4 separate regions of the Homo sapiens genome follow, and all the other regions are reported to be linked to region 3. The links are microRNA targets in miRTarBase. Many come from high-throughput screens and were not tested one by one. Region 3 holds a microRNA gene; each other region holds the end of a gene's coding sequence.

Region 1 (7,118 bases), not on the chromosome of region 3:
CCATCACCCATGTGCATCGCACCAAGCCCCTGTGGAGAAAGAGCCCCTTGACCAACCTCTGGTGGGCCGTGACAGTGCCTGTGGTGTGAGTATTGCTAGGATGGAGGGCGGAGTGTGGGCTGGGGAGGAGAGGGCCTTCTGCAGGGCTAGGATCGGAGGGCGGGACCGGGGCCAGTGGTTTAACTGTACCCTGCCTGAGCTAACTGTTGTACTGGGAAGAGCAGGGAAGGAAGCAAGCAGTGTCGGGTTCACACGGGGCCGCCACCTCCTGCAGGCTGCTGGGTCAGGTGGTCCAGACGGCTGTGGACCTGCAGCTGTGGACACACAGGGACAGCCACGTCCACTTTGGCCTGGAGGACGTGCCCCTGCTGACATGGCTCCTGGGCTGCCTGTCCCTGGTCCTTGTGGTGGTGACCAATGAGATCGTGAAGCTACATGAGATTCGGTGAGCTGTCAGCAGGGCGCCTCCCTCTGGGCTCAGGCATGTTCCCTAAACCTGTTACTCCCTTGGCGACACTCCCCCACCTTTCCGCTGCCCATCCCTCCCTCCTCCTCTGGTGTCCTGCCCCGGCCCCTGGTCTAAGGATCTTTGCCAACCTGTACTTTAATCTCCTGCCCCACCAGGGTCCGAGTCCGCTACCAGAAGCGACAGAAGCTGCAGTTTGAAACTAAGCTGGGCATGAACTCTCCCTTCTGAGCCACTGGCTGTGGTGGCTGTAGTTGCCCCCGTCCCTGGGGCTAAAGCCAGACCCATTTCTGAACAGGGGAGTTTGTATCATGAATGTTTCCAGGTTTGCTCCTGCACCCGTGGCACTGGAAACCCAGCTCCCCGTGTCAGACCCCGCTGTCTTCCTGAGCCCTGGGGCTCACTGTGGAGGAGCTGACGGCCTGGGCCCTTGGCCAGTCCTGGCTCTTCCCTGGGCCTCACCAGGGACACTCTTGAATGTATGGCCTCAGGCGCTCCCTAGAGGGGCCCTAAACCCCCTCACCTGTGAGCTACCCCCTTTAGGGATCCCTTGCCCCCTTGGAGATCCCTTGCCCCCCAGTGCCTCTGCTCGTGGGTCCCTGGACACGGCCTTGAAGCCAACCTTCTTTGGAGGAGCAACAGCAGCAGCCTTGGCCGACGCGTCCAACTCCCAAGGCTGCCGTGGAGGGCAGGGGGGTGGTGCTTGCCTGGATGTGGCCCCGAGTGCCTCCCCTCCCTCCCTCTGTGGGGGAGTCTCCCGCCTGAACCTGAAGATGGAGCAGGGCCCCCGCTTCGCCCTGGAGCCTCTTCCTGTGCCTGGCTCAAGCTGGCTGCCTGTCAGTCTTGGGGAATCTGGCCCAGGTCTCCTCAGCCTCTGCCCCAGTTCTGGGAGAAGTTTCTACTGGTGTATATTTTTTACTGGAAATGAGCCTTTTAGGAATGAATGTAGACTGGTTTGTATTAAAATGTGTCAATTGCTAAGAAATACCTGTGGCTGGTCTGTAAGGCCACTCCAGGGTCTGCCCACCCCCGGCGGTGGCTGGCAAAGGGAGGCCTAAACCTTCCTCCATCTACGCGGGTGGGTCCCTCAGGTCTGGCTCAGGCGAGACCCCTAGGGTCAGGGGTCCCCATGTCACAGAGGCAAACACACAGCCCAGTCACGTGGAATGGTGTTTTCATTGGTGTTAGTTGGGGGAAGAGGTTAATGGTTACAGAGCCAGGGCCTGGGCCAATGGGGTCAGGCTCTCCCTGCCCTCAGGTGGGCAGTCGGGGCTCCTGCTGTGGTCCGAAGCCCCTCCCCCATTGTGTCCTCTCAGGCAGTTGATAGAATAAATTCCATTTAAAATATATGCATTTCTCTCTGCTTAGAAAATAACATTTACAATTGAAAAGTTAGGACTTGTGGGATCTGTTAACCCCACTGCCTCCCACCCCTGCTAGCCCTGCCTCAGTGAGGGAAGGCGGGGGCAGGAGCTGCCTGGGCACCACCGCTGTGTATTTACATGTCCTCTGTACACCTACGGAGAGGGGGCCCGGCCAGACACACGCCTCCTCCAGCCTCTCAGGGCCTGGGCAGGATGGTGGGTGGCAAGAGGCATTCCCTTGGCACAACTTGGGACATGGGCTGGGGGGTACAGAGAAAGCACCCCCAAAGCCCCACCCCTACTTCCTCCCTGAGGAGAGAGCTCTTACCAGGGTCCCTGTCCAGGAGCAGGGCTGTCCTGCTCAATCGATCAAACCCTGGGAGGGGCTTTGCTGAGATGCAGCGGAGGTCCCTCGCTAGTCAGGTTCTAAGGTGGGCTGCCCCACAAGAGCTGTGGTGCCCACAGCCGCGGGCTGAGTGGGAAGGGGCCCTGCTAGGAGGGGCACTTCAGCCTGACCAGCCCTTGGCCCGTCCCTAGGGTGGCAGGGGCCTCTTCTGTGCTGGGGCAAAGGCAGTGGACTTCGGCAGGTCACAGTGGGCACTGCTGGAGGGCTCAGTCCAGCATGGCGTCCAGCTGGTCAGCCAGGGCGTCGAACATGGTGCTGATGTCATCCAGAATGTGCTTGGTGGAGGCGCTGGGGGTGCTGCAGCAAGGGGAAGGATGCGGTCAGATCAGCCAGTGGCCTGCACCCCACTGGCCCTGGGGCAGGGAGCTGTCATAGCTCCCAGAGGCTCAGGGAGGCAAGGGACCGGCCAGGCTCCTGTGCCTCTTAAATGGTAGCCACCAGGATTCCCTGATCTAGGTGATTTCAACACCTGGCCTCTTATCCCGTTAGTGCCTGCAATGTCCCCCTCCAACATCCCCATGATCCCTGGGCAGAGGATGCAGGGAGCACTGTTTCTCTGCAGCCTTCTCTCCCTCCCCATCCGGCCCCCCTCACCCCTCTTGCTCCTTGGTGCCAATGCTCTTCTCTGCGGCTCTCAGTGCAGCTGCCAGGGACGAGCTGGTCTGCTCCAGTCTCTGCTGGGCCTGGCCTGGGCCCACAGTCCCAGTGCTCTCAGGCCGTGGAGGAGGCACTGGGCGGGGGCCGAGCCGGGGCGCTAGCTTAGGGCCAGAAAATGCCAGCTGGGTGCAGGCCACCGACACAGGCTTGGGGGCTGTTCCTGCAGAGACAAAAAGGTTGGCTTGGGACTTGGCTGGGTCAGACACAACCCTGCCAGCAGTGACTCTCCCACAGGCCTCCCCTCTTACCTGCTCCGGGCACCTTGAGGAGGGCAGCAGGGGCGGCCGGGGGTTCTGTCTCCCCATTCCACCGACTAGCTGCTGAGCTTTCCAGACCTGGCCCTGGGCAGGGCGGCACTGGAGGCTGCATGGCGGGGCTGGGAGCAAGGGGGGTTGGAACTCCTTGGGCTGGAAGGCTGCTGGGCTCGGGCTGGGGAAGGCTAGAAGCTGGAGGAGACTCGCCAGGAGTTGGGGAAGGCAGTGGGGCAGCGGGGCCAGGCGTGGCACTGGCCACTCCGAAGGCCAGCAGTGCGGTCTGCAGTGGCTCTCTCTCCCGGCACTTGGGCCTCCGCTTAACAGTGTCTGATTCCGTGAGGTTGAAATCGAGGCCGGGGGGCACGGGTGTCTCTCGGGGCGGGGGGCCAGCGGGCTTCGGGCGCTGTTTGATGGTCAGGTTCCCTTCCTCTGCAAACGGCAGCCCTTCCCCAGAGCTGCCCCGAGATGGGGGCGTCCCCTCAGGGCCTGGCTCCTCCTCCTCCGTGTCTGACGCGGGCCCAGCCGGGGCAGGTGGGCCAGGGGGCTCTGAGGGGCCAGCAGGTTCACTCAGTGTTCGCCTTCGGGGCCCTGTGGCCCCTTCCTTGGGCCCTGGGCTCTCATCTAGTGGAGGTGGCTCCGGGCTGGGGCCAGAGACGGAGCTGAGGCGCTTGGGGGGCGGGGGCGGGGGGCCTTTGCGCCGGGCCCGCAGGGCAAAGGACTGGCTGCGAGGAGTCCCCCGAGCTGGGGTTGGGGTCACACTAGGACTGGTCCGGACAAGGGCACTGCGTCCTGGCCGCCGGGTAAGGGTAGCATAACTGCCTAGGGTGCTGCCCACTGGCCCTTCGGCCTCCCCCTCAGCATCCCCCTCTGTGGGGCCAGGGCGGCTTAGGCTGTGGGACCGGCGCTTAGGTCGAGGCGGGTCTGGGGGAGTGGCAGGGGGCCCGGCCAAGTAGGAGAAGGCCCAGGGTGCGCCAGGAGGTGGCCCTGGGGCCGGGCTAGAGGGTGAGCCCTGGGGGTACATAAAAACATAGGGTGGGGGTCCTTGGCCAGGAAGTGAAGAACAAAGCTTAGGGGGCCGCTCTGTGCCCTCTGGGAGGTTCCTCTCCTGGGGGGGGCTGGGATCTCCACCGCTGGGCTGTGGGGCAGGCTGTTCCTGTGAGTGGCCAGACCCCCGTGAGCGTGCCCCGATGCTCTCCTGGCTGGGAGAGCGGGCAGGTGGGAGGGGGAGTGGTTCAGGGCCACCCCCTGCCATGGCCGCCTGTAGCTCTGGGCTTAGTTCGCTGCCCTGGAAGGTGAGGAGCCGTGGGCCAGCTGTAGCTGGGCCTTCTCCGTTCTCCAGTCCCTCGATGGCCATCAGCTCCGGACCCTTGGCCAGCCGGCGCCCGCCTTCGCTGAGGGCCTCCCCCTGCAGCAGGCCCCGCCGAAGCTCCGCCAGCCGCTTCACCCCCAGCATGAGCTTCTTCTGATGCCCTGAGATGGGGGACGGAAGTGGCAAGGTTAGCTGGGGCTGGGGTTGTCCTGGTCACCGCTGGGCCCCATACTGTCTTCTCTTGGAGACCCCGGAGGCAGGTGGGGGCCCAGCCAGGCCTCAGGACAGTCCTTACCGAGCTTGTTGACCCCAATCTCCTGCAGCTCCTCCCAGGTGAGGTCGGCCACCAGCCCCATGGAGTCGTAGCCGCTGCTCACCAGCTGCTTGTGGTACTGTGGCAGCCCCAGTGCACACAGCCACTCCAGCAGGTCCGTCTGGAAGAGCACCGTCCTCAGAACAACTCCCAGCCAGCCTCCGCCCCCAGCCAGAGGAGAAAAGGCACCGCAAAGCCACAGCTGAGGGTGACAGCACGTGCCCCACTCCCCAGCCACCCTTGATGGCTCACTGGGATGTAGCTGGGCAGCCACTCGGCGATGCTGAGCTGAGCGATCTCTGAGGCGATCTTCTTCCTGTGCCCAGGCTTGGTCACCCCGATGGCCGTCAGGTCCTGCCACACAAAGTCTGGCCATCAGGCCCCTCCCCCGCCTGCTGGGCCCTCCCCCGCCCGCTGGGTGCTGCTTCCCGGCTGCAGCACCCACCTCAGGTGTCATGCGGCTGATGGTAGGCACATCATAGCCGGCCTGCAGAAAGTGGGCAGTGTAGCCCTCCAGCTGGAACTCGCTTAGCCAGTTATGAATGGCCTGCGCGTCCTGCGGGGTGGGGGAAGGGGGCAGAATTAGCAGGAGCTGGACCAAGGCCCTAGCCCCCACCAGGGGCTCAGGACCTGCCTGAGCGGGGCTTCAGTCCATACAGAGGCTCTTGCCTCTACCCTGCCCTACCCACCCCGAGGCCCACAGTGCACCCCGTGGAGGTCACACCTTCCCCCCCGAGGCCCACGGTGCACCCCGTGGAGGTCACACCTTCCCCCCCGAGGCCCACGGTGCACCCCGTGGAGGTCACACCTTCCCCTCCAGCAGCTGTTCTGGCCGCACGTCCTGGGTGAAGATCTGCTCCCCAGAGCGGCAGTTGGCCAGAGGGCGGTGGCTCAGGTTGTCTTCAAGGAGAGAGAAAAATGGAATGGAAAGGTGGCAGGAGGAAGGGGTGCCCACCCTCGGCCTCCTTACTTGCACCTCTCCTAGCCAACCCAGGTCCCCTGACCCTTCCTACCTGCCAGGGACGGCGGGTGGAGTCCTGGCAGCACCTGGTCCTCTCCAGCAGAGGGCAGTGGCTGGAGGAGACAGGGCAGGAGCCAACTCAGCATTTGGGGAACTGGCAGTGGGGAGTGAGCCCTGACCTGGTCCGTGACCCCATCATCCTACCTGGGCGTTCTCAATCAGGAGGCCAGGGCCATGGCCATTAGTGCCCTCAGAGCTCTGCCCGCTGCCGGCACTGCGGATGCTGCCCACGCTGCCCTCACTGCCCACACTATTCCTGTCACCTGCTGTGGGGGGCAGAAGCCAAGGGGTCAGAGTCCCAAGTGTCGCTCTGACAGCTGTCTGGCAGCTTGCCCAGGCCACACGCCCACACAGTGCCCAGCACTGCCCCCTGGGAGGATGTACCTGGGCTGTCTGGGCTGAGGCCCACCCGAGGAAGCTGGCTGTAGGTAAGAGGGTGCGGGGGTTCTTCGGCAGGAGGCTGCGGTGTCCGGGAGAAGCCTGGGCGCAGGGGGGTGGGTGCGGAGGGGAGGCGGGCTGCAGGGATGCCCACCCGCTTGCTGACCACCTCGACAATGCCCGGGGGGAAGTAGCCTATGCGGTCTGTGCCCCTCTGGCTCTCGTGGATGTGGCCCTTCCAGCGGCCGTCGGGATGCTGTTCTAGCACCTGCGGCCAGGGGTGGGGGGCGGGGACGGTCACTCCCAGCACCAGGCAAGTGGCAAACGGTTGTCCCTGCAGCTGCGGTCCGGCAACCCTGGTCCAGCTCTTTCCCTACCCCTAAGGAGCTGGCCTCTGATGCCCACACTGGCCCAAGTTCCGCCCCTGCTGCCAGCAGCCAGCTCAATCTCCCCTGTGCCTCCAGGGCGAGCCCCAGTGGCAGCCCGTGGTCAAATCACAGCTCCACTACTTGCTAGCTGTGTGACCTTGGGCAAGTCACTTGAATTTCTCTTGATTTTATTTTGTTTAATTCTCAATTTTGTCATCTGTAAAGAAGAAATGCTAACAGCACTGCCTTCCCTGGCTTTAAGAAGAATTAAATGAGGGTGCATATAGAGACCTCAGAGCAGAACGTGGTAACATAGCAGGTGCCCAAATAAGTAACAGCAATCATTTGTATTTGCAAAGGAATGCCTGCTTGGGGTCCCTCACCGTGATGACATCCCCTGCCCGGACATTGAGAGCAGTGGGATCGTGGAGGTTCCAGAAATCCTTGAGCGCTCGGACCTTCAGGATCCCTGAGGCCTCTAAGAAAACGGGGTGGGGGACAGGTGTCATCTAAGGGTCCTTAGGGCATCTTCCCACCCCTCATGCCCTTGACAACCCTCCCCCAGGGACGTCCACTCCCCCT
Region 2 (7,118 bases), not on the chromosome of region 3:
CCCAGGGATCTTAAAATGAAGTTTCTGATTCAATAGGCATGGGTCAAGGCCTAAGACTCTGCATTTCTGACACACTTGCAGGTGATGCCCAGGATGTCTGAGGACCAACTCTGAGCAGCATGTCCCTTGTGCATCTGTTTCTTATTTCACTTGAAAGGTGAATGTTGAGGCCGGGCGCAGTGGCTCACACCTGTAATCCCAGCATTTTGGGAGGCTGAGGCAGGAGGATCACAAGGTCAGGAGATCGAGACCATCCTGGCTAACACAGTGAAACCCCGTCTCTACTGAAAATACAAAAATTAGCCGGGCGTGGTGGCGGGTGCCTGTAGTTCCAGCTACTCAGGAGGCTGAGGCAGGAGAATGGTGTGAACCCGGGAGGCGGAGCTTGCAGTGAGCCGAGATTGTGACACTGCACTCCACCCAGCCTGGGCGACTGAGCAAGACTCCGTCTCAAAAAAAAAAAAAAAAAAAAAAGGAAAAAAGAAAGGTGAATGTTGAAATTCTGCTCCTAGATATATATTCGTGAGAATTGAAAACATGTCCTCACAAAAACCTGCACATGAATGTTCATAGCAGCAATATTCCCAAGAGCCAAAAGGTGGAAACAACCCAAATGCCCATCAATGGATGAATGGATCAACAAAGTGTGGCCTACGTATGCAATGGAAGATTACTCAGCTATAAAAAGAAATGAAGTGCTGACACATGCTGCAACATGGAGGGACCTTGAAAATATGCTGGGTGAAAGCAGCGAGTCACAAAAGAAAACATGTTGTGTGACTCCATTTTTATGAAGTGTTCAGGGTAGACACAAAGTAGATTCATGGTGGCTTAAGACCAAAGGATAGAGGGGACAATGAGGAGTGACTGTTAATGGGCACAGGGTGATGAAAATGTTCTAAAATTAGATTATGGTCATGGTTGTGTAAACTCCTTGAATATATAAAAAATTACTGACTTGTATATTTTATGATGGTTATGCTAATTTTATTGTCTGTGAATTATGCCTCAATGAAGCTGTTTATTTTCTTTAATGTTGATTGTTAAATATTTTACATTTTCCCCTACATTCTACCAGCATTTCTGACCCCCTGGGCATGCAGAGACTTGGCACCCATGATCCTTCAGCCCTCAGGACAGCTGGTAGGGGCAAAGCACTGTACAGACAGGCTCAGAGAAGCGATGTGCCCAGGGCTGTGCTGAGTGACTGATGCCCTGCCGGTTTTCCCCTCTTCCAGGGACAGGGAGGTCAACCAGCTGAAGCAGTGGGTCACCACAATGATGATGTCCATCACCAAGGAGGAGGACACAGCAGCTGAGCTGGAGCTCAAAGCCCGAGTCTTCCACTTCGGCGAGTACAAGGGCGATCAGCAGGTAGGCTGGGGATCAAGGTGGCCAGAGGCCCAGGGTAAGGAGGGACCCTTGGGCACCCACTGGAGGAGCCCTGACAGCCCTTGGGAAGATGGAGGACAAGGCCCGGGTGAGTGCCCTGCAGCTGCCCTTGCCCTGCCTCCCTCCAGGAGCCACCACATGTATTGATGCCTGTGCCAGCCAGCTTGGTTGCCCCCACGCCTCATCCATTGCTTCATTCTTTTATTCAACAAATGTGTCTGCTTCTTAAACACATATATTGTGTCTGGCAAGGTGATCCTGAAGGGGGGGAAGAGGCGTGTCCTCAAGCCAGGCTGAGAGGGTGAGAGAATTGGGAGAGAAGAGAAAGCCAGTGGTGTTCTGAGCAGCAGAAGCCAGGACCCAGACAAAGGCTCAGCCCGCTCCCAACCTGACAGCCTGGGGCCACCCCGGGCATGGGATGGCTTCCTACTGTCAAGTGCCTGCTGTGTGCCAGGCACAGGGCCAAGGGTGTGGGATGCAGCCATGAGCAAGACAGCGCTCCCGATACAGCCAGAATCCATGGGCACTGGCTGTGCCCAGGCTGGGCTGAGCTGCCTGCCTGCTGCTCCTCTCTCCTCATATAGCCCACATGGAGGGGCTGTTATCTGTTTTCTAAGTGTCAGAACAGTCTCAGAGAAGACATAGCCCTGTGGGGTGCCCAGGGTGCAGGGTTCCCTGGAGGAGGGGACTGGGCCCCGTTGGCTCACCAGAGGCAGCTGGGAGAGGGGCTGGAACCAGGGATCTGGCTGACTCCAGGGGGCCCGGGGGATAGGCTGCTCTGGCCAAGAAAAGCCAGTTCCCCAAGTTCTGTTTTAGCCCATGTTCTCAGAGCTCCCACTGTGTGCCAAGCGGTGGCCCCCACCCTGGGAGGTCAGCAGGCCACCGCTGAAGGCACTGGCATGGGGGTGGGTTTCCGCCTGCCAGCACCCTGCTGGAAGCCACCTCCTCCACAGGATAAGCTGCTAGAGAGCCTGAACTGCAAGGTGCTGGATGTGTACCGGCACTGCACCGGCACCCAGCAGGAGGCCAACCTGGGCACCGTGCAGATGCTGACCATCATTGAGCACCAGCTGGATGAGCTGCTAGAGAACCTGGAGCACGTGCCCCAGGTCAAGATCGAGCAGGCCGAGAGGGCAAAGGAGAAGGAGCGGCGCATCAGGTGAGCTCTAGGCTCTCCCTGCCAGCTGCTGTGTCCTGGCTGGCCCTGAGGGCAGAGGGCACATACAGGCCCCACCCTCAAAGCACTCCCAGGAGACAGGCCCCTCCTGCTCTGTGCTATGAGAGACAAAAGCCCATGTCTTGGGGGGATCTAGAGGGGCATCACAGTCAAGTGGGGGGTGGTTAGGGAAAGCTTCCTAGAGCAAACGACAGTGACTCGATGTGGCCAGGAGGCTCAGGGAGGGACAGGGTCTAGAAGATAGAAGAGCTGGAGCTTAGTTAGAGTGTGGCTAGCACGGTCAGCCTCAAATACATGGAACAGCAGTGGAGGGCTTTAAGCAGTGGGGCAAACACGGCCAGGTAGGGTGTGGTTAGATTCTTCCCTCTGGGGCTGGACTGGAGGGGCTGGAGGCTGAGGGCAAGGGCAGCTGCCAGCACCCAGGAGAGAAGGCATGGCTACAGCAGTGTTGCTGGAGCGGAAGACAAAGTGCAGAGGCTCAGAGAGCCTTGGGAGTTTCAGCTCAGAGGGGAGTGGAGGGGGGCAGATGGGCAGCAGCTTGCTATCTGTCGGGACACCAGCCTGAACCCAAGGTAGATGGGGGTTGTGGCTTCCCTGGCCTGTGGGCAGCCCGGTTCATCCACCCCGTGCAGGGCTCTGAGACAGCGCAATCTGCAAACATCCATCCGTCCCCCCAAGCACAGGGGCTTCTCCTCTGGGTCCCTGGTACCCTGCTCAGAGTGGGCACTAGACCAGGCTTTGATGACTGAGAGTATATATAGGAAGGAGACAGGACTCTCGCCCCAGGGGGATGCTGGCCTTCATGGTGGCAAGGGAGGCCACAGGTGCACAGATCAGGCCATGGGTGTAGATTCAGAGAAATGTGCCTCTGGGAGGGGTCTGCTGGATGAACCTTAGATTCAGCCCTTGCAGGAGGCCAGAGCCAGGGCCTCGGAGCAGCAGGGCCCTGGTTGTCCTCCTCTGGGCCTAGGCCACCTTGGCCAAAAGCAGCGGTGCTTTGGCTGTGGATAGGTATTGAGAACTTGACCTGGCAAAAGAGGTGAAGAGGAGCTGGGAGTTTTCTTGAGGGAGGACACGGCCTGGCCTGGGGACTCCGTGTGGAGATTACACAACACCTTCCAGGTCCCCCCAGTTTTCAATGTCATTTCTTGCCACCCAGACTTCGAGAAGAGAAGCTCCAGATGCAAAAGATCCTACAGGAGGAGCATCTGCAGCGGGCCCGGGCGCGCGCCCAGGCTGAGATCAAGAAGAAGGTAGGCAGGGTCGCCTTGGGGGGTCTCTGCTGGAGGGGGTCCCAAGACAGCATGGCAGCTGAGGTCCTGCAGCCCAAGCCCCTGATGCTACCACTCTGAAGGCATTCAATGAGGCTCTGAGGGAGACAGGCTGCCTTCGGAGCAAGGCCTCTCCCAGGACCTGCTTCCTGCAGGGGGCTCTTCCCCAGGCTGCCAGCCCATGGCCCATGCCAGGCTGAGCCTGGTTCAGCCATGCCCACCCACCCCAGCCAGGTACACTCTGCTCAGGAGCAGGGTCCCACCACCCTACCCACACTCCGGCCAGACCCCAAGCCCTGCTCACTGCCCGTCACTGGGGTCCCCCTACTGCTGTGTCCCAAGGCCCCCACCCTTCCTGCCTTCTGACCCTGGCAACAGGAAGCAGGTCCCTCTGCCCCCACATCTAATAGGTGGTGCTCCAGAGACCAGGCTTGATAAATGCCAGGCAGACTCACACCCCCAGTTATTTCAGAGTTAACTCCAGCCCTCAGCCTGCAGGGCTGACCAGAGTGGCCTGGAGGTGACTGGAGCTGCTGGGCCTCTCCCTGCACCAGGGGCAGGGGTATATGGGCATACGGCTCACTAGGCAGCAAGGCTCACTGGGCTTGTTTCCCCTGCAGAGAGGCAGGACACTGGTATGCCGCTCACGACCCCCAGCCCACAGGATCAAACAACAGTCTGAGCACACACTGATGGACAAGGAGGAGGAGGAGCTGCTATTTTTCTTTACTTAATCTTCGCAGACCATAGCTGTTCTGGCTGAAGGCTTAGCAAAGATGTTGGCAGAGGAAGCAGAGACTGGGCTGGGTCTCGAGTGGCCCAACTGAGTCCTCTCTGTCTCCTGTGTGCTCCCTTCCTCACCTGAATAAATTCATGTCTCTCTGGAGTCTTGAAGGCCTGCTTAAGGATGCAGCCACCATTGCCAAATCTCAGCACCCCGCCGGTTCATCATTTAACCCTAAGCAGATGCTTGAGGGCAAGAGCATGACACCTTGGTTCCCATCTAAAACAGCTGCTCTGCGAGACAAAAGCTAATTCCACGCTGAGTGTAGTGTGAGATCAGCCTCTGTGCAAAGACCAAAGAAATACAAGCAGGCAGCTAGGTATATGGCAGGGCCAGCACTACCAACTAAAGGAGAAACAATGGGCTGAATGCCATATATGTAGCTACTTGAATTAAGCCAAGGTGAAAAACCTTCGGTGCATGACTATAAGAAAACTTTCATTCATTTGCACTAGGAGTTAGGCCCATCACCGGCAGGGAACCTTGGTGCCCAGAACACTGGGTGCCAGTCCCAGTCACTTCACGGTGACGTTCCCAGGGAGGCACATGGGAGAAAAATAGAGGCCGAGAGGGCATTCCTGGGGGAAGACTCTCCTCCCCATGGAGATGGGGTGGGTGCGGCTCCACCCGCCATGGTGGCCAAAAGCCTCCCATGGAGGGAGGAGGACTCCGGGCCACCTTGGGGCTAAAGAGCCTGCCAGGTGGGCAAGTTCTCCCCTCGCCTTTAGTTGGTGACAGAGCGCCGGTCTGTGGAGAAGACCCATTTGTCGACGAGGTGTGGATTCTTCCACGTGGAACAGCACCTGGGGACAGCACCTCAGAGTGAGACAAGACAGAGGGAGGACTCACTCAAACTTGATGTCACCCCCAAATTCAAGAAACAAACACAGGGCAGAGTTTGAATGATTCAGTCTGAGAATCAAAACAGCCTCTGAATGAACACATACTTCAAAAGGCACAAGGCAAAAAAAAAAAAAAAAGTCATTTAGGAGTGACCCTGTGTCATTGCTAAGTTGACAGACTTACAAATAAACATGGGCAAGGTGATCACCTTGTCTCCTTTTACAAGACAGACCTCACTCGGTAAAAATATACACTGACGTATTATGTGCACATCAACCTCAATAATAAAACATACACGCGCCATCACAGTCCTACACATAATTTATGGTATTCAGAACATCACTTTATAAACTGTTGCCAAATTACCACTTAAACACTAATATCCAAATACAGAATTTAGAAAATTATTTTAAATTTTAACTCTACCATCCCCCCGAGCTCTCGGCTATGAATTTAGTCTGGGAAGAGGGCTCCGTAATAGGCCACTGAGGTCCTCTGTCCCACCACATCATCCTCCCCCGAAAACTAGCTGCCCGACTGCTCTACCAGACTTGGGCTAGAATTTGGCTTCACGGTGGCAATGGGACCACCTGGGCCCTACAGTGTGGCAAAATCAACTTGCCCACAAACCCCATCCCAGGTGCTGGGATGCTAACACACTGAAGCTGAAAGACCACACTTGGTTTTGCCACAGATCAAGCTGCATCTGACTAGACAGCCTGTTCTCTACCCTATTTCCTGCAGAAGTCTTTTTCTTTGTAATGCAACAAGTGCTACACAGCTCAGATCCAACGGGACACGGGGAAAGAGGCTGTAGTGCACCTAGCCCTGCTGAGGGAGACCCTTGCCTTGCCAAAGCACTTTGCTCACAAAGGCAGTTTCAAAGAGTATAGCCCGAACTCATTCCTGGTAAAACAAAAGGAAAACATTTTTGATAAATGTACCCAAAAGTCTCAAAAGGGCTACGCTGGTCTTCTGAACGGAAACCAAATGAGGTCTCCCCAGGCTCATGTCATGAGTCTCAGGGAAGGTGTGTCCTAGACCGTGGCCTTGGGCCTGCCCAGGCCGAGGCTGCCGTCACTGCAGATCCTGCAGGTTGATAGTGCTTCCTGGGAACTGGGTGGCCTCCGGTCCAGCAGGGCCTCCAGATGAGGGGAGCACCTCCTGCAAAACCAAGCATTGTCATGAAGAGGGAGGAGGGAGGGGAGGCAGAGGGATCCTGTGGCTCCACACAGCAGGACACTGACCAGGCCCGTGGTGAGATACCTGACTTCTCTTACTCAAAACTACAGGCTCCCCTTATTCTAAACACATGTTCTTTGATGAAAAATGAACTCAATACTGTACTGTAAATTTTTCAAGATTGTTCTGTCTGCACATTGACGTATACCCTCACATGTTCATATACCCATATGCCTTTTTACAGAAACAAAATCATCTTTACTTCTGCAACCCTTTCTCCGCACTTCTCACGCGGTGAGCACTCTCCCAGGTATTAGGTGTCCGTCCGCCTGTGCCCTCACAGCTGACCAGGATGTGGCCCAGGGCTATGGAGGCCCCATCTAGCCTGTCTCCTCCTGCTACAAGAAGTGTTCCTGCTGTTGCACCATTTGACTCCGGGCTACGGTGATTATGTCACTACCTTATTTTT
Region 3 (7,118 bases):
AGTAACTGGGACTACAGGCATGTGCCACCATGCCCATCTAATTTTTGTATTTTTAGTAAAGACAGGGTTTCACCATGTTGGCCAGGATGGTCACGATCTCTTGACTTCATGATCTGCCCGCCTTGGCCTCCCAAAGTGCTGGGATTACAGGTGTGAGCCATTGCACCCGGCCTCAACACCTCTTATCATAAGGTAAATGCAAGTTTAAACTACATTAAGGTATCACGTCACACCTGTTAGAATGACCATTGTCAAAAAAACAAATGAGAAGTGTTGGTGAGGATGTGGAGAAAAAGAGAGCCCTTGTATACTGTTGAGGGGAATGTAAATAATTAGTATAGCCATTTTGGAAAATAGTAGAGAGGTTCCTCAAAATACTAAAAAGAGAATTACCGTATGATCCAGCAATCTCAGTTTTGGGTATATATCTGAAGGAATTGAAAATTGGTACATCAAACAGACATCGACAATCTCATGTTCACTCCAACTTTATTCCCAATAACTAAGATATGGCAGCAACTTAAGTGTTCAATAGACGAATGGATTAAAATAAATGTGGAATATATAAACAATGGAAAATTATTCATCCTTAAAAAGGAAGGAAATTCTGCTATTCCTGACAACCTATGTGAAACTGGGGGACATTATGCTAACTGAAATAAGGGAGGCACAGAAAGATAAATACTTATGATCTTATACACATGTGGAATCTAAACAATTTAATTTCATAGAAACAGAATAAAAATGTGGTTACTGGAGGTTGGGAGAATGGGAGAGGAATAGTGATAGGAGAGATGTTTATTAAAGTTTACAAAGCTTTACTTAGACTACAGGAATAAGTTTTAGTGATCCTATCGTATCGCATGGAGACCACAGTTAATAATAATGTGTTGTATATTTCAAAATTGCCAAAAAGAACAGATTGTTAACATTCTCACCATCAAAAAATGATAAATTCTTGAGGTGTTAGATATGTTAATTACTTTGATGTAATTTTTCTACAATATGTTTGTAGATCAAAATATCACATTGTGGAGTTCAAGACCAACCTGGCCAACGCGGCGAAACCTTGTCTCTACTAAAAATACAAAAAATTAGCCAGGTGTGGTGGCACGTGCCTGTAATCTCAGCTACTTGGGAGGCTGAGGCAGAAGAATCACTTGAATCTGGGAGGTGGAAGTTGCAGTGGGCTGAGATTGCACCGTTGCACTCCAGCCTGGGAGACAAGAGCGAAACTCAGTCTCAAAACAAAAAACAAAAAACATAAAACAAAAACTAAAACAAAAAAATCACATTGTATCCCATAAACATATATAATTAGTATTAGTCTATTAAAAATAAATACATAGGTAAATGAGAATTCTAAAAACACAATTATTGGATAAAAGTTTACAAGCATTGTTAAATTATTGATAAAATTATTTCCATAACATTTAAATCAGATCATACTCTCATGAGCATTGTATAGTTCTGAAGGCAATGAACAGAAACCATCCTTAGCTAAATAAAATAGGACTTATTTTAAGCCATTAAAATTATTATAGACACTGAAAACAGCCATCAAAAAAAAAAAAAAAAAAAAAGCAGAGCAAAGATGGCTGGGAAAATGGTTTCTGGACCTGGAGCTTTTTGGACTAAAGATTTTTCATCCGTCTCTCAGGGAACTGCAAAAATCTCATGTCTATTTCTTGTAGCTGCTTTTCACTAACCAACTTCCATCTTTTATTTACTTTTTTTATATATAAACAAAGAAAAATGTTAATCTATTCCAAAGCTTCATGAAATTATACATTTTGTACACACCTTCTACTCCTGAAGGATTTATGTTTATCTTAATTCAAATTCATAAGAATGAAAATATAAAAGTTTCAGTCAAATGGATGGATTGAGTCCCTTTGGCACAGGTGTGTACTTCTGATCTAATTTGCCATAGCTGGAAGGGTGTGTTTCCATGTTCAAAAAATAAAGTAATGGAAATGGAAAAATCAAGCCCAGAAGTTTCAGCAGAAACCAAAGACAATCCAGTATAGCATGAGAACATTCATGTCACCATCACTAAATTTTCTTCATCAGTTAGCTTTACTAAAGAAATATTACATCTCATGGTTTTAATTTGAATTTTCATAAGTGAAGCAGAATTTTACATCATGTAGGTCTCACTCATTTGCTTTACATCTGTGACCGCTCTGTTCATGTCCACTGTTCATTTGTCTCTTTAGTTGTTAATTTTTTCTTACTCCTTTTTGTATATTAAAAATGTCATATATTAAGTGTATTAATCTTTTTTCTTTCTTATTGTTCATATTCATTTTCATTTGGCTATCTGCCTTTTCATTATATGGTTATTTTTGACACGTTATAGTTTGAAGTTCAATGTAGTCAAAGTCATGCTTGTCTTTTCTTTTTGCCTCGTTTGTGTTAAAATTGAAAATGTTCTTCATCATTTCAAGGATATTAAATTTTCAACTACGTTTATTTTAGAAAATTTTCAGAAATTACATTTAATTCATTAATATACTGAAATTAAGCTTGAGAACTTGTACGAAGTTCCAGATATTATCTTTTTCTCATTTAGCTAATATTCACAATGCTTTTCCCGCCAGAACGATCCATCTATTAAACATTTTATTCCAAGTGGATTAAACGGTTTCACAATATGATTACATTTTTAAAATCACTTTTTAAAATACTGTGAAGAAAATATTGAACAGATGGATGGCTGATGGTGGGAGTTAGGAGACCATTGGAATAGTCCAAGTAAGAGGTGTGCGTTTCTGGACTAAAGTTCAGTAGAAGTATACAGAATAATTGAAATATTAGCAAGATAAAAAGTGAACATCTTCAGGACTGTGCGATTGTATGTTTAGAAAAGGAGAGGAAGCAAGGTCCAGGAACATGAAATGAATTGAGATTTATGGCTTTGGTTTCCAAGTAGATCAAGAGTGTTATCCCTTGGGAAAAAGATGATACGTTATCTGTAGTCATGGATGGGCTTTGGTCTGTGAGAAGAGCAGAAGACAGATATGTAGCTTTGGGATGTGTAAGCTGGAGATAAAGACTTGGGTATCTGCAGCATCTGAGCAGATGTAAACATCATTCACGTGCCTGAGATTCCTTCAAAGATTGTGAGACAAGAGAAGAGAAAAAAAGCCATAAAGTTAAGAATGGGTCTCAGAAGGATACTGGCATTGGGAGTTCAAGCAGATGAAGAGCTTCTTAAAAATAAATAAATAAATAGGACATCACTGTAATAAAGAGAGAAATCCAAATGAGAGTAGGATCACAAAAGTGAATGGGGACTGGAGTTTAGGAAGAAGTGGTCAGCTGTGTCAGGCATCAAGGGGAGTTCGAGTAGGACAACTGGCAGAAAAGTTTGATTTGTATTTGGCAATATGGAGCTCACTGGTGATTTGGGGAAAAGCAGTGTCATTAGAATGATGTTATGCACAAGTGGGAGAGAGAAATGGTAGAAGATGCCAAATTACATATAGTTGAGGTGAAATGGGAAGTAAACAAATATAGACAGTGCTGCAGGCTACTATGTACTATTTCTAAAATCTTAGCTTTTAAAAAGAAGAAAAGAAGTGGGGTAAGTAACTTGAGGATAAAGCAAGTATAGAGAAGTTTTTCTCAAATTTCTTTTGTTTTCTATTTGAGAAGAGAGAAAACTGAACCTTGTTACATGTGAAATGGAGCCAGATGGTGAGAGAGGAGGGGGATATCACAGGGGAAGAGATGTCCCAAGCAAGGCAGGAGGCTCACGTGAGACAACTCAGGGCAGAATCCTACGCATTCATAGGCTATAAACAAGGAAGTGGAGGGAATAATCACATGGACTCAAGCTTCTCAATGAAAAACAGAAGTCAGTTCATCTGTTGAGAGTGGAATCGTGGAAAGGAGCAGTTGAGGAAAGAGGTAAACATTTAGGCTAAACATGAGGGAGTGGAGTAGAAGAAATGCTGGGTCAGAGTTGAGGGACTGAGGCACTTGGAGGCCCCTGAGTATGTGTATTAATGTGTCCATATGATGATGTGATTTTATTTTTCAGCAACACTGATATTGAAAGGACAGTTGCCTTGGAGATAAGAGAATGAGAAACTAGAATGGTAAGAAGTGATAGACAGAGTGGGATATTAGATATCGAATGTGGTAAAATATTTTAAGGTTATGATGAGGTCAAGAGCCGGGTCCCAGCAATGGGTTTCTGTAATGGGAGTTAAAGGCAAATGGGATTTAAAAGATCAAGGAAAAGAAAGGATAATTTATTTGACCATTAAAAAAAAATGAACATTGAAGCCATCCAGGTACTCCAAACATAGACACTTGAGAAAGCATTTTATTTTGCTATATAATTATTATCATTACAAATGGTAAACTTAAAACTGCTGTGATCAAATTTAATGACAGATGTCCTATATAAAAATGCAGAGGCAAACCACTTAAGAAAAACCATGATATGCATAGGCTTTTACTTGCAAAGTCAGATGAGTAAACATGAGGCAATTAATGGGCCATGACTGTAAGTCTAACCACGCAGTTCATGCACATAGAAAGTGGGTAAAGTTTTAAAGTGGAAATTGAATTGGGAAAATCAATCTACTATATGACTGTCATGAGTGTTCTGATAGTTATATAGTTATGTATATATTATTTTCTTCGTATTTAGCATGTTACATAGCAAGAGGCAGAATTATATGAGCAAATCCTCACCCAGAGAAGCAGAAAGCTAAAATTATCTGGTGTTTCTATCCCACTTTGACCAGAACATCTAACAAAAGTTGTAAAGAACACATATTTGTAAGTGTGTTATTGTCAATGGCATGGGTGCTGAGGTCCTACTTTATGTCTTTTTTTCACTCACACTACAACAGTAGGAAGGTGAGCTAACCTAGATGATGATACTGTACGTTTGATGGACAAAATAGTTTTGCCTTTTCTAAAACATGCTCTGTTTATAGCATACAAAAGATAGAGAAGCATTATTCTTGTTTAAACCAGAGTCTTTTTCATTGAAATCTCATCACATGATATAAATTGAATAAATAAACCAGAAGATGCTGACGAATTGGAAAACTTAAAGAACAATAGTACTATTTTGAACACATCTTTCAAAGATGGAATATCTGTTGATTGTGACAGCAAAAAGCGGGGCCACAGTTGCATTCATTGTTCAGTGAGCTTGTCCACACAGTTCAACCCACCGACAGCAATGAATGTTGATTGTGACCTTTTAAAAAATAATCTCTGCACAGGGAAGAGAAAGTCCTGGTGTGTCCACCTTTGGTTTCCTGTCTTCAGCGAATTCTGAGCACCATGGAGTAGATGATGGTTAGCCATAGGGTACAATCAACGGTCGATGGTTTTGATTTTAATTCCAAACTCACCGACAGCGTTGAATGTTCACTGAAGCAACCTCAAAACTCAGAATTCTACTCACTTTACAGTATCTGTAAGTATCTGAAGGGGATGGGAGACAGAAACAACAGTACCTTTAGTCATATATTTTATGCATTTTTATGCCATTTCAAAAGACTACAAAAGAAGACAAATAAGAAGCATGATTCTTCCAACAAAGAGTTTGGCAAACCTCCACATCACATTGTATGAGAGAAAAGGATCGGTTTCATTAAGCAAAAACATGGCCGATATTGGGCTAGTTCCAGAGATGGAATTATCTCACTGTTAAAGACAGGGACAATTTGTTATTCAAAGTACTTTGTGGTATAAAATCCAAACAATATCTTATAATTTAAATATTGTTACGCTTATAGTAAGCAAGCATTATGTATATAGCTTATACAGAAATTAAACAGAATTACCTTAGATTTCCTCAAATTGGCATTGATGATATCATTTATATTTACATTATATATTTACTATATTTTATTCTAAAATAAGGTTTTAAAATTAGTATAACTTCCTAAGAACAATCTTATTTAGAAAATGCTGAACAAATTATAAGTGAAGAAACCAGCTCAATACATTTTTCTTAGTTTATGGCACAAAGAGTTCATGAATACAGTGAAAGGTAAATACAATCTATGTATGCTACAAAACCGTTCATTTCCTATTATTTTAAATAACATCTAACATCTAACATCTCTTTATGGGTAGATGGGTGAGGGATTCTTTTCATAGTCTTATTTTCTAAGACTGTTTTATCATTAATGCTTATTTTAAAATTATTATGAACTCTACTGAATTTATTTTTAGAGCCATTTTCAATAATTTTCTACCATCAATTAAAACAAAAGTCACCTTGGATGTATCTAAACCAGAATAGAAAGTCATTATTTCACACATTTAAGTTGCATCTAATATGGTTATAGAGTAATTATCTGTAGGAGGGACAACCCACAATAATTTGGAATGCTACTTTGAAGGTGATAATGGTCTATTCAAGTCAAGGCAATTACTCTCGAAATGTTAGTGAAATATGTATCCCAAATTTTTACACATTCTTACATTTCAGTCACTTAGAATTATTTTAAAGCCAATAATTGTTTAACCTTTTAGACAAACTATTTACATGAAAACTTCAACAGATTTTTTTTGAGAGAAACAGGGACTAGAGATCAACTGGAAGTAAATTTTAAAGTGACAAATAGGCACAGAATATGAAACAGTGATGTATCTGAATTTTGCATTGTTTAATTCTTTTGAAAGAAGCAAATTTCTCCCACAGAATAAAACCCTAGAAGAATGCTTTATCAGTAGGCATTTCTGTGTTGCTGCTGGAAAGAATATTATCATGAGACTGAGGATTCATTTGTTTGCATTATCAATTACGACTGAAAGCATATCACTCCTGTTCTGTTGCCTGCCTATTGTGGTATTAGTGTCAGGTCAATATACAACTGTTTTCAATCATGCCTATTCATCTCTTGCTACATCTGCTAACGTTTGTATAATAGGGATGTTGTGATAAAAGACTCCATGCTCTGTATTTTCCCTTAACACAAAATGCATTTGGCCTACCAGTAAGCAAAGCTCTAGGTCAGTTACAAATAATTAAAAGGCATAACTATGTTATCTTTTGTTTTCCAAAATATTCTCCTAGAAGTCTTTGGAAGAATACAATTAACTTAATCCTAAAGTTGTTACATTCTTAGAATAAA
Region 4 (7,100 bases), not on the chromosome of region 3:
TAGAGAGAGTGAACATAAGAAGTCATAGGAGCTGAAAGAAAGGAAACAAGGGTCTCAGGAGAGTTATGGTGCCAGCTGCTTCTGAGAAATGTCCCTATGAGCAAAAATTCTCCATCTTCTTACTGGCAAAGTTGGGATTATGGCAGCCTTAGAACCAGAAAATGGTTATAATTTTTTGTCATGAAGCTCAAAGGGAAACAAAAAGTTTGAGAGATCAAGCAGGGACCGCAGTGGGTGTGGGTACAGTCAAGGGAAGGTATGAGTGACGCTCCTAGATATTCAATGTCTTCCAGGAGAAAGCAGTAAAGGTCAAGTGTTAACATACTTGTTTTTCATCTTACTCCAACAGAAGACCAGATGTAATCTTCCTAAAGAATATTCCCCAACATATCCTGACAACTGTTGGGTGGGGAGGAAGCAAGTTGTACCATGTTACATATAAATGAAAAACCATAAGGTAGCAGACAATACTAAGCATGCACCCGCCCTTATACAAACACAAAGGCAGAGGAAAAGTTCACCCTAACAATCTGCCAATGGACTATTTTTGGGGAATGCACATACATACACACACACACCAAAAAACAAAACAAAACACAATAGTAAAAACTCTTCTCATAGTCTCCAAAAAGGATAGTACTTAAATTTTAAATTTCTGAGTTAACCTATGTTGGAACAGTTTTGGAGGTGACCTATTTGTCATGAATTGATAAAAGGCCCACATAAACACTATGGAAAGGAATGTTAAACATTAGTTAACACTGTGCAACTTGTTTCCTTAAGTTTGCATTTGTCACCAGAATAGAAAACTAACAAAATATTTCCTGGATATCTTATTTTTTTCTTGATTTTCTTTTTGTTGTTTTGTATTTCTTCTTCTTTTTCCTGGGTATTTTGAATCTGAGGCATAAACGGAAGTCTGTCCAGACCTGATAGGGTACTCTTATGAGAGTCTGGAAGAAAGAAGGGACCAACTGCTAACTCAAGCCTACGGCCATGTGTCAGATTAAAGCTTGCTGATGCTTTAATCTGAGCTTAAAGCATCAGATTACAGAGGTGTATGTGTGGAGGGGAGGTTGGGGGACAAAAACAAAGAGAGGCAGTTTCTGCCCTTTAGGAGTAGTTTCCTATCGATTAGGGGAAACAGTCTGGTATAAGACATGGTTGGGAATCAGGGGACTAGGTTCTAATTCTGACTGTCATTCATTGGCCATGTGATTGTATAGGGTGGAATCGGTCACTTACAAAATGAAGGAATCACATGAGGAGGTGAAACTGTAAAACGAAGGAATTAAATGTGATAGCATTTCTCTAGGTAAATGCCAAATTAAAAAATATGGTTAAATAAATTTGGAGGCCCCCACGCAGCACCAGATAGATTCACAGAGCATTTAGTGTAGCAAAGGCTCTCAAAGCCCTGCTGTAAGGGAGATTTTTGAATTTGTCAATTCCTAAACTTAGTTTCTGACATGACACCTGTTAATATTTGCAGAATATTATTGAGAAAAGAATGGTCTCTATGCCCCTTCCAGCTTTAAAATTCCATCATTAATATTTTTTTACTTTACCACTTCCCTCAGTTGTCACTGTATTTAGTTTTTCATGGAGTTTGCTGCCTTTCACTTCACTTTTCATGACCTTTACTGCTATTTAAATGCTGACATGATACTGTAACAGGGTTGGATTAAATGATCTCTAAAAATCTGTACAGACCCGGAAATTTTACAGTTCTTTGAAAACTATCACAAGCATCTACTGAAGACTGAAAGAGAAAGCATATAACCCAGGCTGTCACCAACTTAGCACTAACATTTACTAAATGAGACCTTTGAGATTCTTATGTTTTAAGTTCAGCCAGAGTACCATCAGATTCCTGGCAGAGGCTTGAGGCACAGGAATGACAGCGGAATACAGATAAGGGATAGAAAACTTTAGAATAGCTACAGAGGTCAACTAACCCAAACATAGTTTAGCAAAACTTAGTTTCTTTTTCTAGTATATGATTGCTACGTTCTTTTTTGCTCTGCCTTGATCTTTAATATTTTACGTGTTTTTAGAAGAGCAATTTTAATACATACACTCAAATTAGTTTTCTCGATTGTCCACATGCCTTACTCATTAATTAGCTGAGAAGATAGAAATACCAATCTAATGGATCAAAAAGAAATTTGTCTTCTACTACAGACTTTACAGGAAAATCTTTTGGCTTGATCTGACTCCACTGGAAGGGGCTCATGTACTATCACTGGAATGAACAGAGGCACTAGCTGTGATACGGTACTGACAATTTCTTTTCCTTTTGTCTACTGTCTAGGTGATGCAAAGCTGGAATATGGTGTGTTAAATTTTCTGCAGACTAGGATGCTTCAGCTCCCAATGAGAAAACAGAGAAAAAAGAGACTAAGGATGAATGTTTACATGTCTGAGGCCTTTAGCGTGAGTATTCAGCATGAAGCATGTTCAGTGTGAGTACTTCAAAAGATAACAGATGCCGTTTAACAGAAAGAAGTAAAACGTAAGATTCCTAAGGCTTGCTTCACATACAAAAGAGCAGTTATTAGAACATCCAGTGTGTGTGTGTGTGTGTGTGTGTGTGTGTAAATACATACTTTTTTTTTTTGGATACAGTGTCCAGCTCTGTCACCCAAGGTGGAGTGCAGTGGTGCAATCTTGGCTCACTGAAGCCTTGACCTCCCGGAATCATGCAGTCCTACCGACCTCAGCCTCCTGAGTAGCTGGGACCACAGGCGTCTGCCAACACACCCAGCTAATCTTTGCATTTTTTGTAGAGTCTGGGTTTCACCATGTTGTCCAGGTTGGTTTTCAACTCTTGGGCTCAAGTAATCTTCCCTGCTTGGCCTCCCAAAGTGCTGGGATTACAGGCATGAGCTGCCACACCTGGCCAAAATCCAGTATATTTTTAAATTATGTCCTAAAACACAGAAACACTGGATTATAAACAAGATTACTGTTGAAAAGAAAGTATGAACTAACATAAGGCCTTAGCAAGACTAATTTTAAAGTAAAAATAAAGCAAGATTTAATCTAAGTCTTATTCTAACGGTTAATAATTCTTGGGAAGCTAACTAAAGTTCAGTGATCTAATCAGTACTTGGGAGAATCATCATAGCATGTACACAAAATAGAGAATAAAATTTTAATGGTATCAAAAACAAAACTTTTTTTGGCCGATTTAGTACTTGCTGGAATAAAGTTGCAAAATGTTACTCAGTAACTGACTTAGCTTCTAATCAAGCCAGAATGACACACAGTCTGTATATTAATTAAGTATATACAAATACATCCAATGTTAACATGCACAGACATAGAAACAAGGATACTACAAAACCGAAATCACCATCTCTACTGATGAAAAATGAACTGAAAACAAAACATCCATCCAGTAGTCCAGAATATCTTATTTTTGAAAAGGTTTTGAATATTGCTCTTTCCAAGAATTCAAATAAACTCCAAATGGTTAAATTTGACTGTTTTCTCAACATGAAAAAAAGGAAGCAGACATATTCCTATGGCTATAGGAACATACCTTTTACTCAGTGATATCAAATTAAAAGGTCTGACATAATTTCACTCTTCTCAGGTAAAAAGGGCTCTTCATATTCTAGTGGTTAAGAATAAATCCCTTCAAGTTCTTATGCATTTGAGTGTCATACCACCTACAGCAACATACGCTCAAGTACCTTTAACGATACAGTCATATAGCATGAGTTTAATTTTCCTGAGAACTAAATTAGACCTACAAAATAAACAGGCTATGAAAATGACCTGAGTTCATAGGAATCTCTAAGTTAGAGATAATTTAGCTTTGCTAAGATTTCATCAAAAGCCTTTTATAGCAAGGGTTTCTTAGTGAGTCACATACTTGGTCATGGAGCCTTGGAATTTTTTTTAAACATTAAAAAGAAGTGCTTTATGTTGTTGTGCAAATTCAGCAAAAGGCCAAAACAGCCAACAGTACTGAAGCACTAAGTAAAACCTACAAGTAAGCCACAGATTCTACTATCTTATGAAGAAAGGAGGAGGTGAGAGATACAGCTGACCAACTTTGCTCCCAGTTTGACAATGATTATTGGGAAGCTAAGCAATTCCTTGCAAGTTAAGAAAAGACAGCACCTTAAGTGGAACCTAGTGGAAACCACTCAGAAGTGAGGGTTGTGTGCAACAGGGATGGCTACTGATCCCCTCTAGGTAACTCCTCTTTTGTGTGAGAATCCAAGAACATAGAAATCAAGCAGGGAAACACCGGCTTCATGGTCATTTCTCTGAATTATGAATTGCAACTTCTGTTATTATTGTTTGCAAACTACTAAAAGGTCACATGTGAATCAAGTCATTGAACAGCATATAAAAGAATATGGCCTGGCTTCAACCCAAGCTTTTCTTTTTTGTTTTTTAGAGACAGGGTCTGGCTCTGTCACCCAGGCTGGAGTGCATTGGTGTGATCAGAGCTCACTGCAGCTTTGAACTTCTGGGCTCGGGTGATCCTCCCACCTCAGCCTCTTGAGTAGCTGGGACTACAGGTGTACACCACTACAAGTGGCTAATTTTTGTCAGTTTTTGCAGAGAAGAGGGTCTCACTATGTTGCCCAAGCTGGTCTTGAAATCCTGGGCTCAAGAGATCCTCCCATCTTGGCCTCCCGAAGTGTTGGGATTACAGGCGTGAACCACGGTGACTAGCTCAATCCAAGCTTTTCTGATTTCTGATGTAATCTAATTCATGGCACTTTAAATGTTTTGGTGCCTTGGTGTATTAACATGTAACATGAGAACAAGATTTATTTACTTACCTCAAGAAGCTAGTACATGGGTTATTGAATGCACTCTTAAACTTTGAGCCCCTCAGATGAAAAGCACTGTGGAAACAATTACAGCTGAAGAAAACCCTTCCAATGCCTCAGAATCCTGACTTACTGTGCCTTGTGTCTCAATGGCACATTGAGAAACAATGTGCACTAGTTAGTGGCATCACATCCCTTCATATATGTTGTTTGGCACACAAATGTTTATACATTTAAAATAGCTGTCATACTACCTATTCAAAAGCATTTACTAGTTTTCTAATAAAGCTAATGAAATGTACCCATTATGGAGTACTCCGTGTCAAGTTTAGAGAAACTTTAGCTTTCTCTGAAGTACATGTAACATAATAAAAAGTTTATTTAAAAAATTGAACTAGTGTTGTATGAAGCCATAAGTTTTTAATGAAAAAAAATGTATGCCACAGTGTCTATATATTCATCTGAAGAGTACAAAGATGGAGTTCTGAGAAAAAAGGGTTTATCACTATAGAAAATAAATCTGGTTCTTAAATTATGTTCAAAGCAAACATTAAAACAGTAATGTCTCATACACTGAAATAAAGCAATTAGAGGTAATAAATTATAAATACAGTAGTTCAAATATTGTTTTAAGCATTAGTTTTTCTAAACAAGTTAAATTCAAAACATTTTAAATCTGTTATATTTTTTCAAAGGGATGTACAAATGAAAGCCTTCATAGAAATCTAAAACGATACCACCTTGTGATCTTCATATAGAATATGCTGAACCTTGACCATTTTTGATTTATAACATACTTTGGTTAATACATTATGTTCCATATGCCTTTATATTTGGGAGGAATCAGATTGTGATTTGTAGCCTTTACATGCAGTTTACCCAAACCTTCTTCACATCCAGGTCTTGCTTGATTCTCTGGAGAAGGTTTTGTCAGACTCATAATTAAAATGATGCAAACTGTAAATGACTTCTTCAGAACTGAAAACTTCTTTTTTTTTTAAATAAAGTGCTTTTAAATTCAAATATATGTTGCCCTAAAGAAAACTGAAATATACTTTAACCCTGAAATCTCCGTATCTTGACACACACATTTTAACGGAAAAAAAAAAAATCAGTTTTAGGCCATTCATGTCCTTCAAGAGAGTTCAGATTGGATCTAAATTGGGTTTTGCATCATCATCGTGCTCATGTTTATACATGAAGGTTAAAAGAAAAAGGGCAACATCCAAGGATGACCAATAGGCAGTATGCGACGTGACAGCTGACCAATAGCGGCTCTCCACAAGGCCTTCTCTGAGTTCAAAATCAATCCTGTGATCCAACTCCACTAAAAAGAAAAGAAGTTAAACAAATGAATACAGATTATAATAAAATATGTTCTATATAGACTTACTGGAGTTGAGAGTAAAAATTTAGCTAAATAGAAGTGATTCTGTCACTTTTTTAAGAAGTGACTTTCCATTATCATCTTAAGAGAAAAACACTCAAAAGAGCCTCAGTAGTACAGGATTCTATTTGTAAAGTTCTTTCCTTTGTATGCTAAAGTTAATATAAAATAATAAAGGAAGACAAAAAAAAATCACTTGGCATATCACAGAATATTTTCAGAGTTAAAAAAATTGCTTTCAAAACTTGGCATTACCATTTAATCCTTGTGCCTAATCTATAAAATAAGGAAAACACCCCTCTTGAAGATTTACGGGCCAGGCTTGCATGCAATGATGCCCGTGGGAGTGCAAGAGATCATTCAATCTCCTCCTTAGGGAGGCCCTATATATCCACTAGTTGTGTGAGGGATATGTTAGAAGATAACCATCTGTGTACAATCCTAGAATGTTTTCTTCTCTACTAGGCTGAATGTCTCACAGGCAACCCCCATAAACCCTAGTGTCCATCCAGTCAGCAGGGTCTAACATGTGCCTGGGACATACAAACGCTCATTAAGTGTTTGTTCAACAAAAGAAGAACATGCAGGGTGGCTGGGAAAGTTAAACAGGGAGGAGCAGTGGTGATTCTTGGGAGGAAGGACTTTGCTTATAACAGTGCTGTCCACAAACAATTCAGTGAATTCAATCAAGTATTTTCTAAAGCCCACAGAAAGTCCTTGCGATTACCTGTTAGAGAAAAATCACCTTAACAAATCAAGGCTCTAAAATAATTCCAGTGAGCTCATTTAATAAATTATTAGAGATAAACACTTAAGAATATGACATTTTGATCCTTAGGAACTCCTTTAAACTGTTAATGAGCCGTACAGTGTTCTGAAGGGTCTATGTTACAAACAAAACAAAAATGCTCAAA

The links. The annotated mature microRNA hsa-miR-181b-5p reads AACAUUCAUUGCUGUCGGUGGGU and lies in region 3 at 5,196-5,218, opposite strand. An mRNA with a match to its seed (bases 2 to 7 or 8) in the 3' UTR can be bound and repressed. Matches are read on the target gene's strand: a 7mer-m8 pairs with bases 2 to 8, a 7mer-A1 pairs with bases 2 to 7 and ends in A, and an 8mer does both.
Region 1: the mRNA of TMEM94 is a reported target of hsa-miR-181b-5p. Seed matches in the 3' UTR shown: 7mer-m8 at 779-785, 8mer at 941-948 and 8mer at 1,407-1,414.
Region 2: the mRNA of ZXDC is a reported target of hsa-miR-181b-5p. The part of its 3' UTR that is shown has no 7-base or 8-base seed match.
Region 4: miRTarBase lists DDHD1 as a target of hsa-miR-181b-5p. The part of its 3' UTR that is shown has no 7-base or 8-base seed match.

The regions. Positions count from the first base shown.
Region 1 is chr17:75,498,638-75,505,755 of GRCh38, forward strand. It overlaps TMEM94 (transmembrane protein 94), which reads left to right. Exons shown (of 32, transcript NM_014738.6): 30 at 1-85; 31 at 275-445; 32 at 625-1,815. The coding sequence ends at 697. CASKIN2 (CASK interacting protein 2) reads right to left here. Exons shown (of 20, transcript NM_020753.5): 10 at 6,920-7,014; 11 at 6,175-6,436; 12 at 5,935-6,056; 13 at 5,783-5,843; 14 at 5,578-5,669; 15 at 5,215-5,325; 16 at 5,022-5,123; 17 at 4,752-4,890; 18 at 3,142-4,617; 19 at 2,831-3,053; 20 at 1,624-2,533. The coding sequence ends at 2,443. Among named protein-coding and RNA genes, the nearest start is that of MIR6785, 3.6 kb to the left of the region's middle. RefSeq lists an enhancer at 5,923-6,062.
Region 2 is chr3:126,431,831-126,438,948 of GRCh38, forward strand. ZXDC (ZXD family zinc finger C) reads right to left here. Exons shown (of 10, transcript NM_025112.5): 10 at 5,771-6,631. The coding sequence ends at 6,545. It overlaps CFAP100 (cilia and flagella associated protein 100), which reads left to right. Exons shown (of 17, transcript NM_182628.3): 14 at 1,239-1,374; 15 at 2,346-2,551; 16 at 3,729-3,822; 17 at 4,461-4,726. The coding sequence ends at 4,574. It overlaps LOC124906280, which reads right to left and starts at 2,352. Exons shown (of 1, transcript XM_047449418.1): 1 at 966-2,352. The coding sequence starts at 1,913. The coding sequence ends at 1,368.
Region 3 is chr1:198,853,730-198,860,847 of GRCh38, forward strand. It overlaps MIR181B1 (microRNA 181b-1), which reads right to left and starts at 5,253; the gene lies at 5,144-5,253. All of the region lies in intron 2 of MIR181A1HG (MIR181A1 host gene), which reads right to left. MIR181A1 (microRNA 181a-1) reads right to left here and starts at 5,424; the gene lies at 5,315-5,424.
Region 4 is chr14:53,040,824-53,047,923 of GRCh38, forward strand. It overlaps DDHD1 (DDHD domain containing 1), which reads right to left. Exons shown (of 13, transcript NM_001160148.2): 13 at 1-6,126. The coding sequence ends at 5,945. Among named protein-coding and RNA genes, the nearest start is that of FERMT2, 93 kb to the left of the region's middle.